Regions from separate parts of the Homo sapiens genome. Here region 2 is linked to region 1. The links come from fine-mapping of genetic effects on gene expression. Tissue or cell type: whole blood. Region 1 holds a variant in brackets; the other region holds the start of a gene. All regions are shown on one strand. Distances are from middle to middle.

Evidence for each region. PIP is the estimated chance that this variant, and not a neighbour inherited with it, causes the effect.
Region 2: it holds the start of IRAK2, and the variant in region 1 is fine-mapped to the expression of IRAK2 in whole blood (TOPMed, PIP 0.97).

What each region holds. Positions count from the first base shown.
Region 1 is chr3:10,187,780-10,190,536 of GRCh38, reverse strand. The region is part of intron 2 of IRAK2 (interleukin 1 receptor associated kinase 2); the gene reads right to left. Among named protein-coding and RNA genes, the nearest start is that of IRAK2, 24 kb to the right of the region's middle. RefSeq lists an enhancer at 855-934. The variant G/C (reference allele first, on the strand shown) is at 1,414.
Region 2 is chr3:10,163,857-10,166,466 of GRCh38, reverse strand. It overlaps IRAK2 (interleukin 1 receptor associated kinase 2), which reads right to left and starts at 1,548. Exons shown (of 13, transcript NM_001570.4): 1 at 1,419-1,548. The coding sequence starts at 1,512. RefSeq lists silencers at 1,234-1,383, 1,584-1,713.

The DNA of each region.
Region 1 (2,757 bases):
GCTTTTTTCCAATGGAATAATGAATGCATGGAAGGAAAAGGTCAAGTGACCTGTCCTTAGCCACTCAGCAATTAACTTTAAGAAAACCTCTAGCTGGGCGTGGTGGTGGGCGCCAGTAGTCCCAGCTACTCGGGAGGCTGAGGCAGGATAATTGCTTGAGTCCACGAGGCAGAGGTTGCAGTGAGCCAAGCTCATGCCACTGCACTTCAGCCTGGACAACAGAGTGAGACTCTGTCTCACAAAAAAAAAAAAAAAAAGAAACAAAGAAAACCTCACCATCTCGTATGCTTTGAACCTTCCCAGTCTACAAGAAAAGTAGATAGGGCAATGTCTTTACCCATTTTCCAGATGGGGCAAGTGATGATGCAATCTAGTAACCTACCAAGAAGCGGGTAAGGTCAGGCAGACCTGAATTCCCATGTTGGCCTCATCACTATGGGCTATGTGGCCTTGGGAAATTACTTAATCTCTGAGCCTCAGTTTCCTCTTCTATAAAATAGGGATAATAAGAGTTGTGAGAAAAGATGCTTACCTGGCACATATCAGGTGCTAAACACAAGCTATTACTAGAACCCAGGTGCTCTGACCCCTGGCCTGTGGTTTTGGCCCAAAACAGTGTCGCCTCCAGTGGCAAGTCTGCAGTGGGCAGGGTCTGGATGTAGGCATGTTCTGTTGTGCCCTAGCAGCTGGAAAGGGGCGGAGGCAGGGCAGCCTTCCAAGAGAGCAGACACACAAGCCCTGTCTGGACCTGGCACAGCCCGGCCCCTTCCGGAGAGGAAGGGTTCATTCTCTTCTGTTTCATTTTACATAGCAGCCCCAAATTTTCCACTCAATGAGAGCCCAGCTCCAGGAAGGAAATGACTCTGGCCGAGATGCCAAACCCAAAGTTAGAAACTGTCAAGAGTTGCACAACCAAGAAGAAACTGCATGAAAATTGTGAAACTCAAGACTTCAGGTAGATAGTAGCAACAGATGGGAAGAGAAAACCTTGGTCACTTCCCAAATCCCTTCGGATTCCTGAAGTGTCTTCCTGTCCTACTCAGTTGACATCTGGAACCTCACAGGCCCAGCCCCCCAGTCCATATAGTGGCCAAAACAGGGGATACTCCCAGGTGGAAGCCCTCCAACGTCTTCCCTTCACTCTCCGGTGAAAGCAAACTCTTGGCGGTAGCCTGCATGGCACTGGGTGGCCTGACCCTGCCCTGTCCCCAGCCTCAGCCCACCCCCAGGCCTTTGTACATGCTGCTCCCCCCGGCTAGATATGTGTGTGTCGTCCTTCACTTCTTGGTCCACTATTCCTTACGGAGGAGGCTCAAGTTTCACTGCCTCAGAGAAACTTCCCCTGATGAGATCAAATCCTCTCATCTTGCACTCTCCTACCTGCCCTCCCCACCTGACCTACATTTATCCTTT[G/C]AGCACTCATACTGCAGTGGGTGACATGCATCTGTGTGTTAGCTTCTTATAATTCATCTCCCACTGGACTGTAAGCTCCATGAGGCCTGAGACCTTGGCTGTGTTTTCATGGTTGCATCCCCAGCATCTAGCGCACAGTAGGCACTCAGCAAATGTATTTTTAGGCCAGGCGCAGTGGCTCATGCCTATAATCCCAATATTTTGGGAGGCCAAGGCGGGTGGATCACTGAGGTCAGGGATTCAAGACCAGCCTGGCCAACACGGCAAAACCCTGTCTCTACTAAAAATACAAAAATTAGGCCAGGCACAGTGGTTCACACCCGTAATCCCAGCACTTTGGGAGGCCAAGGCAGGGGGATCACCTGAGGTCGGGAGTTTGAGACCAGCCTGACCAACATGGAGAAACCCTGTCTCTACTAAAAATACAAAATAAGCCGGGCGTGGTGGCGCATGCCTGTAATCCCAGCTACTCGGGAGGCTCAGGCAGGAGAATCGCTTGAACCCGGGAGGCAGAGGTTGTGGTGAGCCGAGATTGCGCTATTGCACTCCAGCCTGGGCAACAAGAGCGAAACTCCATTTCAAAAATAAATAAATACATAAATAAATAAATAAAATTACAAAAATTAGCCAGGCGTGGTAGTGCATGCCTGTAATCCCAGCTACTCAGAGGTTGAGGCACAAGGATCGCTTGAACCCGGGAGGCGGAGGTTGCAGTGAGCCGAGATCGAGCCATGGCACTCCAGCCCAGGTGACAGCGTGAGACTCCATCTCAAAAAGACAAAAAATGTATTTTTAGTTCCTTATTAACTCTCTTGTCCAGCTCCTGCATATCTAAATCCCTGTGGCAGGGCAGAGGGAGAATTTCACCTCACAGGCCAGTGCACCCAGTTTCCAGACTCCACCCTCAGAGCCAGAGCCATCTGCTCCCCACCATCTACAGGCTCAGCACCTAACCCAGCCTTTGGTGGCACTTAATCAGCTCTAGAGCTCAGCATTGATTATAGTGGATTCTCCTTTGCCTGGGAGCCACAGCTGGGATACTCACTTCTGCCTCAATTCCTGCTCTTAAGCCCCTAAGATGCCAGTATATAAGGTCTGGAGCCCGGCCCACAGTCCCCTCCTAAGCCTGGTCATCTGGAAAAATCCCTCTCTGGAGTAGGCCTCTCATCGTTAAGCCCCAGGGTGATGGCGGACCCTAGCCCCAGAAACAGACTCTTCTCACACTGGATGCTGGTCTGAACATACAAGTACTGCCTCTGACCCCCTAGGTTCTCCATCATGGGGCTTCCCTGAGATGCCCAGCACCCTCACCATGGTCACCATTTCCCCAGAGCAGTGACTCAC
Region 2 (2,610 bases), 24 kb after region 1:
AGAGCCTGGAATGCAGATCTCCACCTGGAAAGCAGAGACAACAGGCAAGCGGCCTCCCCGCAGAGTCCATGGCCCTCTCCGCCAGTCATCCGTCAGGCACCAACAAACAAAACATATGGAGGCTGTCTGAGTGCCTTCCCACGGAATTATCTAGAACTGTGCACCTTGCAATAGAGTGAAAGTAAGTGCTTGTGCTTAGGCCCCATTATACACACTGAATCTATTAGGACACATCTGATCTCAAAACAGGTTGATAGTCATAAATACTGTGATCAAAACAATGTACACTAAAAGTAAATATCTGATTTTAAAACTATAATGGTAAAGTACATTTAATCACAAATATGATAAATAGGCTGGGCACAGTGGCTCACGCCTGTAATCCCAGCACTTTGGGAGGCCGAAGCAGGTGGATCGCCTGAGATCAAGAGTTCCGGAGGCCGGGCGCGGTGGCTCATGCCTGTAATCCCAGCACTTTGGGAGGCCCAGGGTGGGCGGATCACAAGGTCAGGAGATCCAGACCATCCTGGCTAACACGGTGAAACCCCGTCTCTACTAAGAATACAAAGTTAGCCGGGCGTGGTGGCGGGCGCCTGTAGTCCCAGCTACTCAGAAGGCTGAGGCAGGAGAATGGCGTGAACCCGGGAGGCGGAGCTTGCAACGAGCCTAGATCGCGCCACTGCACTCCAGCCTGGGCGACAGAGTGAGACTCCGTCTTAAAAAAAAAAAAAAAAAAAAAAAAAAATAGTTCAAGACCAGTCTGGCCAACATGGTGAAACCCGGTCTCTACTGAAAATACAAAAAATTAGCCAGGGTGGTAGCGGGCGCCTGTAATCCCAGCTACTCGGGAGGCCGAGGCAGGAAAATCGCTTGAATCCCAGAGGTGGAGGTTGCAGTGAGCCGAGACCGTGCCATTGCACTCCAGCCTGGGCAACAACAGCGAAACTCCGTTTCAATATATATATATATGTTAAATCATAGATCCTTCTAATATACACTAAAACTAAACACACCACACACACACACACACACACCCCCCCAAGAAGTGACAGCACCGTGGGTCCCTACAGGGTCGAGGCTCGCACTTTGCAGGCTGTTGTGGGCTGGATGAGAGGCCACCTGGGGACGTCACCGAGCCAGCAGCGCTGACAGGAGGGCCCCCGTACCCACCGTTCTCTGGACTCAGAGCGCAGTGGCGGCGGCCCCTGCTCGTCGACAGACGTCCTCAGAGACCACGCGGCACCTTCAGGTGACAGGCCGAGGTCCGCGGCGGACCCGGTCCAGGAGGCTCAGCTCGCACGCCCTCGGATCGGGACCCGCTGAACCCGGGTGCCCGAGGGAGCTTGGCGGCCGCTCCAGGCGGGATCGCTGGGGGCTCCGGTCGCCCTGGTCCCCTCCCCTCCCCGGGCCGCACTCACCGAACTCCATCCAGTCCCACTCGCTGAGCGCGTCCATGTTGCGGCACAGGTCGTCCAGCACCCAGGAGGGCAGCTGGTAGATGTAGCAGGCCATGGCACGCTACGGGGCCGGCTCCGGCGCGGGACGACTGGGTCGGACACTGCGGGCTGCGGCTTCTCTAGCCAGGGGCGGACCGGCGGGGAAGTGGGCGGGGCGGGAGGGCACCAGCGTCCCCAGCGGCCACGGGCGGCACGACGGCCCCGCCGGCTCCACCCCAGCGCCGGCCAGAGAATCGGAACTGCGAGGGGAAACTGAGGCCCTGGTGGGAGAAGGCCACACGGGAATTCTGCCGCAGCGGCAGGAGGCCTTCTGACCCCACTTCCATCGGCACTACACCATGCATCATGCGCTCATCAAATACTCCATTAATTACCTACTGTATGCCAGGCAACTCCCTAGGTGTTGGTAATACCTGAATAAGAAACCCTACAGCCGGGCGCGGTGGATCACTCCTGTAATCCCAGTACTTTGGGAGGCCGAGGCGGACGGATCACGAGGTCAGGAGTTCGAGACTAGCCTGGCCAATATGGTGAAACCCCGTCACTACTAAAAATACAAAAATTAGCCGGGCACGGTGGCGCACGCCTGTAGTCCCAGCTACCTGGGAGGCTGAGGCAGAAGAATCGCTTGAACCCTGGAGGCGGAGGTTGCAGTAAGCCCAGATTGTGCCCTTGTACTCCAGCCTGGGTGAAGAGTGAGGCTCTGTCTCAAAAAAAAAAAAAAAAAAAAAAAAAAGCCTACAAAAGCCCTTGCTTTCATAAGACTTACAATCTAGGTGTGGAGAGAAAGACTAACAATAAATAATAAATATAGTATGTTACAGAGTGTCTTAAAGGTAATAAGCACTATTGCAAAAAAAAAAAAAAAGGAAAAAAAGTTGGTTAAAGGGAATCAGGAATTCAGATTGAGCATGGGGAATATTCTATTAAATAGGGTAGTCAGGTAGACTTTACTATAGTAGCTAATATGTATCGTGCAGCTACTATGTGCCAGGCACTGTTGTAGGTGCTGGGAATACCTCTGAAGAGAAGGACAAAATCCTTGTCCTGGAGGGAGACAGACAACAAGCAATAAAAATAGGCAGATAAGCTATGTTGGAGAATGAAAGTAGAAGCCTGGGCAACATAGGAAGATCTTATCTCTACAAAAAAC